Linked DNA regions of Homo sapiens. The protein of the gene in region 1 interacts with the protein of each later gene in a pairwise test. Each region holds a gene or a part of one and is shown on either strand. Other genes may lie near its edges.

Region 1 (7,292 bases):
TGGAGAAGAGAGCAAGCGAAGATGCTGGCCTCCCACAGGGGAAAGACCTGCAGGACCCACGGCTCAGCCTGAGTGATTCTGGTTTCTGAGAGCCAGGGCAGATGGATGGGTCAGCCCAGCTACTGGATTTCTGAGAACAAACTGAGTGTCTCCTGTGCAGGGCTCCCCTGGTGAAGTCAGAGTGCTATGGACACTGGCCGAGAGGGTGTCCTGGATGACATCTGCATGGTTCTGGCCCACTCCCTCACCCTGCTGGCCCAGGCACTCAGGCTACGCTCTGCTCCTCTGCAGGGTGGAGGAAGGCGGGGAAGAGGGTAGCAGGTAACAGGCCTGGCTAAACTCACGGGCATGGGGGCTGGAAGAAACTACCCACACCACTTTATGTCAAATTTAAACTCCCCCTACACAGGTTAGTCATCTTTTCCCACTTTGTCAATGCCAGGGGCAATACCACCAGTATAATGGACAAGAGCACAGGCTCTGGGACCAAACAGCCTGGGCTGGACCCCCAAGCTCATGGGCCATGGGCAAGTTCCTGATCCTCACTGTGCCTCAGGTTTCTCATCTGTAAAATGGGAAAAACGAGACCACTTACCTCACAGGGCTGTATTAAATAACACACGCCTGGCACAGAGCAGGCACTGTAAAAAGATTCTTTTGCATCAGTGATAGATACTAGTATTATTCTATGCTACCTTCCATGTTTGCTTTTATTACACACTGCTTTATAACCTGAAATCTGACGACTTCTATAGAACCCCGATGTCAATGCATGGCAGAGAGTTTGCTCTCATTTAGAAATTCCTTCACTCTGATGCAGAAACATCACTGGATCCTACTAGTGGGTAACTATGAACTAGGTGGCATATACAAAAATAATCACAACTCTGGGGGTGGGTCTTTGTCTCACTGGAGTTATAAAAAGGCCCAAGAGTATAAGCTAACAGGTTTCCAGGGCAATGCTTCCACTATCCCTATTTATAGAGCAAAGCCTGTAAAAGCAGCTTTCTCCAAGATCTGAATGATATTTATGTGTCTGCGGATCCACTGTGGGGCAGACATGTTGCACTGGGGTGGGGTGTGTAAACACACTCATACTGGGAAGATGTATAGGATGTGGGGTTCTTAAGGCGCTGGCACTAGGCAGCGGCACTAGGCAGCCTCCACCACCCCCCAGCTCCAAGCTATAGACAAGGTGATCCCCACTGTGCAGAGCTCTGCAACGTGGAGCTCAGGAAGTGGGATTCCTAGGACTGAACCCCTCCAAGATCCGCTCTGTATGTGCATGGACGGGTGACCCCTCTCAGGAGCATGATGTAATGGGTGAGATCAGTAACAGCATGGCAAGGCTGGTGTGGAGGCAAATGCGGACGGGGGGAAGGACAGTCTTGGGAACCAGTAAGACCTGGATTTACGGGTCAGTTTCACCACTTGCTTTGTTATCTTAAAATGGGGGTAATATTAATAGCTATCTCCATAAAGCAATTTTGAGAATTTAAAAAATGAATACACCTATAAAATACTCAATGGCTGAGTGTTAGTGAATGCCATGTTATATGGATCTCAAGTGACAGTCTGATAAAATGTCAAAGAACAGTCCTAGTCGTTCCAATCAAAACAAGGCAAATCCTTTGGGACACCTACAAGAAGAGAGAGAGAGACCGCTGCTGCTGCACTTCAGAAACAATGGCGATCCCGGCATGGTGAGATTTTTTTAATGTCTTAAAATCTTTTTTCTTGTTCATATCTACATTTTTTCTATTTGACCAAAAGTCAAGCAGGGCTCTACACACCTAGAATGTGTTGCTTTTCAGACTTTGCAAGCATTCACGTCATGCTCCAGAGCACTAGGGAGAGCCAGCCATCTGAGCAGGCCCCGCTGAGGCACATTCACGTCACAATGTAGACAGGATTATTTATTCAACTTGCCAGTGTGTCCTTAGCACTAATGAACACCCCTGAGCTACCATCAGCTGAGGCACGCTAAAGCCAAAAAGCTTTGGTCAGCCCCCCTAGGTCATGCAGCGAGTGTGCTCACCCACGAAGAGGCAGCGCTTGGAACCAAAGTCATTCTTAAGCCCCTCCACCCCTTCTCTAACCAGTAAGGACTCTCCATTGTCACGTGGCACAGCCTACGTGAGATCAGGAACATTCAATTATCAGCCTCCTTTTCTGGCAGAGCTTTGAAAAGTGTGGAAATTATATTCCACAGTTACTGCAACATGATTCCATCCAAAGTCCCACAAATGCTCAAGCAGCAGAAGTTTGCTAATCTACAGTATGTTATATTCATCTCCCACTTCTTTTATAAAAAGATGCAAATGTGCTGTGCTAATGACATTTAATATTGCTAAGTCACAGATTTAATAAGAGCTGGTATCAAATCTGCTATCTGTAAATGCAGTTCTACAAAAACAGATAAGTGCACACAGCAAAATTAAATTTTTGAAAAAGCTACTACATAAAATAAAAACTTCAAGATCCATGACTATTTTTTAGTATAGACTCTAGAAATAAAGCATTTTAATTCTCAATTAAAACTAATAAGTCATTATGACAAAAGTCCTCTTTTTATTTACTGCCGTTGTAAATGATCACAAAACATATTCATTGTCAAGTGAATGCACAGGCTTTCAAAGGTGATTGTATTCTGCAAGGTGGGGAATAGCCAACTACCTTCTAAGGTGAATGTGCAGCCTGCCATTTCCAACCCCAAAACTCCTCTAGATTCTCAACAGGGCAGCTTCTGCTTCATGCCTCTCTTCGGAAAGGTCAGCCCTGTGTAGAAGGCTTAATACCAACATGCAGATCCACCTGAGAATCACTGGAATGCTCTGGACCCAGCTGGAATGCTTCCGGAACCCAGTCAGGCTTCCGGAAATGAGAATGTGTGCACACACTTCTTTCCGTATGGTTTCACTCTTTCCACAGGTGAATTACTTACCTGCCCGGTCATATAAAATGTGGGATCGCTGTAGGCCCTCCTTCACGTCATTCTCTGTGATCAGAACTCTACTGGGAGAATAGGATTGCCCACTCTTCTTACAGAACATCTTCCTAGAGCTTAACCTAGCCAGCACCGCCAGCTGCAGTCCGTTCAACCCAGCTCGGGCGTCACCGTCACTGAGGTAAGCCAGGGTGTCTACTGCTTTATCCTCTATGAACATGGCGGGCCTGAAACACAAGCAGGGTTAGTTACGGTCACACTCAGGCTGCATACTTCTTGTTCTGCACATGTCTTAGAAACTCATACTTCTCAGCAAGGACACTGAAGAGTTCAAGGCCTTTGCCTCTTATTCTCACCTTTGTCAATGTGCTTAAGCATCATCAAGACTACGAACTGACTGGGGCTCCTAAGTCACCAGGTTATCGCCCTGTATCTTATGAGTGTCGAGGGTATCTCACTGCATAGGTTCATACATCTAAGTCTGTGTGAAACAGACACTGACTGGCCTGGAAAGTCACTGTTGACAGGTGGTCTCTCTGGTTCTACCCTGCACAACAGTGAAAACTTTATTAGAAATGCTAGCACCTCATTACCGTGTATGGAAAACATGTTCCAAATGCAGCCTACATCCGATGAGACAGATGTGCTTAGACCACTTTCCACACAGGGGAGAGTCAGCATTATATCTGAATATTAGCTCTGAAGGGCTCCAGATCATGCAGTTCAATTCCTTCATTTTAAAAACAACAAATTGGGTCCCTAGTTACTCTGAGCACAGCAGGTCCTAGAAGCAGGTCTCAGGATTCTCTTGGCCTGGGGAATCTTGGGATGCTGCAGTAGGTCATCTCATAGTGGACACTAATCATGCAAAATCCGCACAGGGTAGCAGAGAGGTCATTAGCCTGGGAAGCGACGAGAAGACTGCTGGTACATAGCCATGAGACCCTGGGTAAGCCACCTAACCTCTCTCTGAACATCAGGACTAAAACTTACAGTCACATTTCTAAATTTGGACCCTCATAAATAAGATCTAACTATGATCAGAAGGCTGACTCAGTAAAATTTTCTATCCCTAGTTGAGTTAAACAAGACATCTAACACATTTCATAACTTAGTGGGGTCTTATTCCTGGCTGAGCTGCTAGCTGCACATTTGTGAAGCAAAAAAATAAAATTTTTCAGTTACAGTTCACCCATGTCATCAACATTCAGCTGAGAACATCTACAGTAAATAATAAGCCCATTAGGACTGTCCGAATCAGCTACCTGGAAAACAATGTACAGGCACCAACGGGGCTGGGCCGGGGAGGGGTGGCAGTTTCCGAAGGGGACCCAGCTTGCCTGCTGGATCAATGCAGAACTCCTCAGCATACACCCACTCACTGACACTACTCTGCTCACTGAGTAACCCAAATAACACCAATCTGCATTTCATTCACGGAAGGATTTGTTCCCAATGCCTTAAAGATGCCTCATCTCACCCCCATATTTACCAAAGTTGATTTCCAGTTATTCCTTGTGGGTCTCTCACCACACCTAAGACAACTGGCCAGCCCCAGCTTTACAACAAATGACTCTCTCCTCACTCATGCCAACTGCCTGGGCCCCAGAGCCAGTGGTGCAGCCTGGAGACCCATCTTCCTCTCTCCTGATGGTAGCATTCTCTCAGCAGACCTCACCAGAACAACAAAAAAACAAACACCGAGGCCATGTCACTGGCACTCTATAAAGCCTGGGGATCACTGCTCAACCAGAAATTAGTTAGCAAGTCTTCTGGAAGATGATTTAGAAGATAATGATGGACAGAACATATACTAAAGAAAATGTATGGGGAAGGACCAGCATCACAGGGGTGTAGCAGTACGTGACATGCCTGAGAGGGAAGGGTGCACTCTCAGCCCCTTACTGCACTCAACCTGTGTGGGAAGACAGGTAGGGAGAACAGAAACTGCTTGGGCATCTCATTTCTGCCTCAGAACTAGTAAAAACAATGGATTCTCTCTCCTTGGAAAGCTGCCTAGCAACAAAAAGCCTTCAGGACAATTGAGGGAAGAAAAAGGAGTCAAAGCAGGAGCCCCATTGGATCCTAACGGACTGAACTAGCCTATATCCTGCACCATGGGTTGGATTGTGTGTTGATTACATTACATTCATCATCCCTACTATGCGGAGCACCTCAAGGAGAGGAATATTTTATTCTTTGTATTCCCAGACCTGGTAGATGATAGGCATCCAATATTTGCAAAATGAATGGACTAACTTCAGTTTTATCATAATCTCAGAGTGAAACCTTTACTTCTTATAAATTATATGGAAAGTATAGAGAAAACAAAAAGAATCCATATTTCCAGCACTGAGAGATAAAAATGTACTTGATATTTCCAGCAGAATGAAAGCTACTGTGCCAAGTGCTGACTTTACGATCCACTCACCCATGCAACCATCAACCTTACAGCTAACCTAAAACAAAAACTGGGACCATATTTTACATAGTTTTACATCCTTAACCATTAAATAATTGTTTGAAAAACAAGCTACTCAGACCTGTCAACATTTACTTTAAAAAAATTTACATTAAATTTTAAAAATAGACAAAGGGAGAAAATTCACCTTCTGCTAGACTACCTTGACGTTAGTATTTTGGTATGTATCCCTTCTCCATGAATTTGTCTTTTGTATGTATTTAGGGGCATGGCATGCTCTTTGGACAGTGACGAGATGGGCAGCCTTATATACCATGGTATTTACTAGTATAAACTGCCTCATTTCCATTAGTCCTCATATACAGACAGGGAGGCAGGCCTTATTAATTAGGACAGAAGCCAGCTAGCCGTCTACTCCATTGATTTATCAACAGTATGCTGTGAATAAGTCTTTAGCAATGATTATGTATTTTATGTGGTTGGAAAATAAGGTCTTCCTTTGGCTTTTAAACTCCTGACCAAAGTACAAGTGGTTCCACACTTCTGGTTTGGAGTCATGGGGAATGGAGGTGCTGCCACAACGAAAGCTACCTGAGCTCGCGCCACTCCCTTCTTCTTCCTCCCCTTGGGTATAATCCACATTTTAAATTTCACCCCGTCCAAAAGAAGAAAGTATTTCGAGGCCCAGATCAATCTGTCGGCAACTCTGTCCAAGTAATACAGGACCTGCTGACAGCACTCACAATGATCACACAAGAAAATTACAAAATGGAGATTCACTGTGAAGACGACTGAGCAGGGAAAGGTTCCACTTAAACACCCAATATATCTTGAACTCCCATTTACTAAGTTCTGAAGAACGAAGTAAGATATACTAAAATACCCTGAGATCTTAGAATGGGAAGCCCATGAGAGAACTCATGCCAAGAATGATGAAGGGATAGTTGTATTGATATTGGCAAAATCCCTCAGCAAACTGCGGCACAAACTATTTTGAAAGAGTGTTCCCAGTCTAGAGAATTTACAATTATTTTTAAATTTAAGCATATATTAAAATTAAGCATATATTTATAAAGTGTTTTGCACTTAAAAATAACCTTCCAAAGGTAGAATACAATAAAAAGAGGTAAAATCTATTCTGGGGATAGACTGCCCAAAATGTCATAACATCCTACATGGAAATAAACAATAGGAAGTAAATTATGTTGTTATAATAAAACACTATTTATAATAAGGGAAAATTGGTTAAAATAAATGCATTGGAAAAGATTCTATTTCTAGTTAACAAAACCTAGAGATAGAAACAGACTTAAGAGAGCTTGGCTTCTCCAACTGATGAGAAGGGCTTTAATTTTAACAGAAGAATATAGGAAGCTCTCTTCTTTCCTCTTCCAGGTGCCTAAATCCTGAAGCTTTCTACACATTGGGTAATACTGGAATTTGGAGGATACTACTTAGACAGCTGGATATGTAAGTTGGAGAAGGAGTGCAGTAAGTAAAAATGTACCTGTTATTTCAAGGCAGAATGAAAGAATATGCATGGCTTGGTTAAACTCTCCCTCTCTAAATTACAAACCAAACCCCACAAATCTCTTCCACTAAGGAAAAGGAACATTTCATGGTCAGGGTGATAACTGCTGTGTAGAAGTTTCAACCAGGGATATGCATCAAGTTAGACACAAATACAGCCACATGTACCTTACCTACCATAGACTGAGCTCAAATCTCCAGGGGCAGACCCTGGGCAAGGCATGTTTCTAAAATGTATCCCAGGGAAGTGTGATGTGCAGATCTGGTTAAAAGGCTCTCCTGCTGCTCTTACACAAAGAAGTGCCAAGAGAGAAAAGTCAGAACAGAAAAACCGAGCAGTGGGTCCATCCTCTGTAAACTTGGCACCTCCACCCCTTGTAGCACTTGAAGTCA
Region 2 (4,662 bases), on another chromosome or scaffold:
GCGCCTGTAGTCCCAGCTACTCGGGAGGCTGAGGCAGGAGAATGGCCTGAACCTGGGAGGCGGAGCTTGCAGTGAGCGGAGATCGCGCCACTGCACTCCAGCCTGGGCAACAGAGCGAGACTCCGTTTCAAAAAAAGAAAAAAAAGAAAAAGAAAAGCTATAAAGCAGCAAGGGGAGGGGAAAGATAGGAAGTACACACACCCTAATGTTAACAGTGATAGGATTAGTTTTAATTAAATTTGTATTAATTGGCAACAAATTTCACGGCACAAAATACAGACAGTATAAGGGATGTGCAGCAGAGTGATCTCTTCTTCCCCTTTCCCCAAGACCCCGCCCCAGGGGCAGTCGCGGTTTAAAGGGGTCTGTCACCCCTTCCTTGGGCCATTTCCGCGCTTCGCATTTTGTGATTTGCACGTGCGTTGGTGGGTTCCCGGGGGCGGGGCGCCGCGCTGGCCCCGCCCACCAGGTGCGTCCCTTGTCTCGCCCCCTGCAGACGCGCGCACGCCCACGCTGGATCCTGACACGATGCACGCGCGCCTGCGCCTGTCCGCCGATCGCCTGACGGTGCGCTGCGGCCTGCTGGGCAGCCTGGGGCCCGTGCCCGTGCTGCGGTTCGACGCGCTCTGGCAAGTGCTGGCTCGTGACTGCTTCGCCACCGGCCGCCACTACTGGGAGGTTGACGTGCAGGAGGCGGGCGCCGGCTGGTGGGTGGGCGCGGCCTACGCCTCCCTTCGGCGCCGCGGGGCCTCGGCCGCCGCCCGCCTGGGCTGCAACCGCCAGTCCTGGTGCCTCAAGCGCTACGACCTTGAGTACTGGGCCTTCCACGACGGCCAGCGCAGCCGCCTGCGGCCCCGCGACGACCTCGACCGGCTCGGCGTCTTCCTGGACTACGAGGCCGGCGTCCTCGCCTTCTACGACGTGACGGGCGGCATGAGCCACCTGCATACCTTCCGCGCCACGTTCCAGGAGCCGCTCTACCCGGCCCTGCGGCTCTGGGAGGGGGCCATCAGCATCCCCCGGCTGCCCTAGGGGCCAGGACCGGCGTGACAGCCTCCAGGTACGCCGCAGCTGCCCAGTCTCGCCTAATCTACCTAGATCAGCGTGGCTGGTCCCCTTACTGCCTGCTTCTTAGGGCCCTCTCCCTGCCCCAGCTTTCCCCGACCAATCACGCCTACAGTGCTTTGAAGGTTTCCTCTCCTAGGCTAGTTTCAAACAGGCCCTAAACAAGTCTGCTGCTGCCCTCTCATCAGACCTCCGCACCCTCACCCCACCATCACTTACACTACTTTAATCCAGTTCCTTCAAAGTGATACCCCCACAGGTAAGCCCTCAGCATCCTGAATACATCATCCGCAGCCTGGGAACCTTCTCCCTCGTACAGCACAGGAACCTGACACATAGTAGGCACACAGTAAACGTTTGTGAATGAATGGGAGTCATCCAGTCCTGACTCTTCTGTCTCTTGAGGTCCCTTGAATCTTCCGCTTCCTCCCCACCGATTTCAGCGTGTCCACATCACAGCTCCCTCCAGAAGCTGCAAGAGCTTCTTAGCAGTTCCTGGTCTGAACCCTCTCCCAGTCCTCATCTTCCACCCTAAAACTAGAGTGATCTTCCTAAAACTTCACTTAACCCCTCAGCTATGAAAAGGCTTCCAGGAGTTTCCATGAAATAACAAAAAAAAATACAAGCGCCTCACCTTAGCATTCAAGGCTTGTCTAGTCTGCCCAAAATTACTTATCCTCACCTAGCTCCTACCACTCTTCTTAGAGACTCTCCAGTCAGAAATGTGTCGCATAGTTCCACCTCCACACCTCTCTGCTGCCAGCACATTCATGCAGAAAAGTCTTTTCACCTGTCTCAGTCTTCCGCAGGCTTACCTGCGCCAGGAAGTCTAACCAAGGAACAAGAATCTCACTATCAGAGCCACAAATCTGGGACCTGTCTTTCCAACTAAATTGGAGGCTTTGGAAGGGCAGCTTTGTCCTATACTCTCTCCACCCTGAAAAGTTCCCAGAAAGCCCCTTCCCTCCCAAGCAGTGAATTAATAACCAGCAGGTGCCTATCACTGAGTAACAGAAGAGCTGAGTTAGGCGGGCCTCACAGGTCACCCAGCCAGATCTCATCTGGGGAGTCTGAGGTCCTGAAAGAAAGCAGAGCTGCGTAAAGTTACCCCGGGGTGATATAGGGGGGCCAGACGTGTGCCCCGTTCACCCACCCCCAGGCAAGCATCTGACCTGTCCCCTGGCCCAGCCCTTAGGCCCAGCTTTCAACCTGCTTACTCATTTCTCAGGGGATTTTGGGAAGGAATCAGCAGGTGACAGTTGCTAAGCAACCAAAGGGGGTGGTGTTTCCCAACTGTCTTGGGACAAAAAGGGTAAGAGCACCCTTAGATCCAGATGTTGCCAAGGAAACCCAGAGTGCCCAGCTGTCTGGAATGAAGTGACAGAGGTAGAAAACAGTAGGCCCTCACAGGAGGCCACCTTCGCTAGCAGGGAGTGGGAGGCTTCTTTCCAGGGATTTGTGTCTCCGTTCTGAAGGTTCTGCGTCCTGTTTTGTCAATTCCCTAGACGGTTTTGAAGTTATATTCTGTTAAAGCATCTTCATAGGTGCTTGGTGGGAGGCCAAGGTCGCCGAATCCTCGTGGTTTAAATAGACTTTCAGTGCATTAGTTTGAACCATATAAAACTGACAATTTTCAATAGTTTTTGAGTTAAAAATGGCACTTTTGATATGAGACAATGTAGCAGAATACCAGGCAGACAGAACCTTGCAAACACCTTAACTTCTAACCAAAGACTTTAAAACTCTGGCTGGACAGAGTTTTAAGCACTATGCTGCAGGAATCCTGAGAAAAAGGGGAAATTAATTCTATTAGGAATGGCCCAAACTGAATTGTGACAGGCAGAGGGTGTTCCTGACAGAGGGAAGATGAATACACTTGACCCCAACATTTCTGCCCATCCCTGATGACCAAGACCTCTTCCCAGACCCACAGCTGCAGGGGCCAAGTAATAACAGCTCTTAATAGTTTATAATGCACTGTTTTAATGCTTTACGACTAAACTCATCTGATCCTTTCATCAGCCCTAGAGGGTAGAAAGTTTTCCCAATTCTACACATGGCAAAATGGAGACCCAGAGTCACTTGCCCAAGGTCGCACAGCTAGTGGTGGAGCTGGAGTCTGGGCCCAGGCTGTGAGTTCCAGGTCTGTGCTCATGGCCACCAGGCCCTACTGCTCAGGGTGAATGCAGCTGGTCTCTGGCCAGTGCCTGGTGCTCTGGCCCCTCTCGTGGAGCTACTGCCCATGATGCTTTCCTAGTGCCTGGTTACTCTGCGAGACTTGAGTCTACCTTTGGACTGCCTTCCTTGGGGGTCTGAGATGAGGCCTTATGGCCCAGAGGGGAACTTGATTCAAAAATTTGGGATTCATGTAGCAGAGACAGAGCTAGACTGTAAAGGTCACAAACTAGCTGTGTCAAGGCCCGTGATAGCCAGAAAGCGGCAGTTTCAGTCCATATCAATTGTGTGACCAGGGCTAGTCACTTTTTACTTCTCAGTGCCATCTATAAAATGGGGATAATAGCACTACCTACCAAGTGCTGTGAGGCTCAAATGAGCCAAAGGTTATAAACTTGCCTTAAAACTATAGTCCTATACAAAAATTAGCTGGGCGTGGTGGTGCATGCCTGTAATCCCAGCTACTAGGGAGGCTGAGGCAAGAGAGTTGCTTGAACCCAGGAGGCGGAGATTGCAGTGAGCTGAGATTGCACCACTGCACTCCAGCCTGGGGACAGAGCAAGACTCTTGTCTCAAAAAAAACAAAAAAAACATATATACTGCTGTATCATGCCAGGATTTATCAGCATTCCCAAGGGAGCTTGCACGGTACTGACCGAGTGCTGAGACTACTGGTATTCCCAGCTGCCATGTGGCAGCAGCAGGAGCTACTAGAATATTCTCAGCACAGGAATGAGGCTTCCTTGGTTTCCATGTCTGTAAGGGTTACTGATCACTTACCTTCTTCTCTTTCAGACTTGAATCTGTAGACATTTCTTTATTGATATGGCAAATTGCTTGCAGATATTTTTAAATGACAGCAATTTTCTAATATTTGGTTTAATAAAATGTGAATAATGTCCCTTTTAACCATGGTCTTCACTGGGAGTTCATGTTGCTTCAAGTCCCTAGCACCCAGTGATACCCCCACAGGTAAGCCCTCAGCATCCTGAATACATCATCCGCAGCCTGGGAACCTTCTCCCTCGTACAGCACAGGAACCTGACACATAGTAGGCACACAGTAAACATTTGTGAATGAATGGGAGTCATCCAGTCCTGACTCTTCTGTCTCTTGAGGTCCCTTGAATCTTCCGCTTCCTCCCCACCGATTTCAGCGTGTCCACATCACAGCTCCCTCCAGTTCATGTTGCTTCAAGTCCCTAGCACCCAGACCCAGAAGGGCCTTTACTCATATCTTATTCCTTACGCAGCCTTCTGGTAGTAGTCAGCTGCTCCCTGATTAACTATCTCCAGGGATGGGGCATTCACTGCTTCTGAAGATAACTCATTAAAGTTCTCACTTACGTGTAAACAAACCCTGACTCCCACCTGTTCCCATCCAAGATCGTATTATAGCTTGAACTCCTGGTCTCAAGCAATC

The links.
Region 2: the proteins of WRNIP1 (region 1) and TRIM14 interact in a two-hybrid assay, tested with the Homo sapiens proteins (one study listed by BioGRID).

What each region holds. Positions count from the first base shown.
Region 1 is NC_000006.12:2,775,145-2,782,436, reverse strand, and holds part of WRNIP1 (ATPase WRNIP1), read right to left. Parts: intron 3,175-7,292; coding exon 2,945-3,174; intron 1-2,944. UniProt on the Homo sapiens protein: Functions as a modulator of initiation or reinitiation events during DNA polymerase delta-mediated DNA synthesis. In the presence of ATP, stimulation of DNA polymerase delta-mediated DNA synthesis is decreased.
Region 2 is NC_000009.12:98,083,840-98,088,501, reverse strand, and holds the end of TRIM14 (tripartite motif-containing protein 14), read left to right. Parts: intron 1-496; coding exon 497-1,032; 3' UTR 1,033-4,149; downstream 4,150-4,662.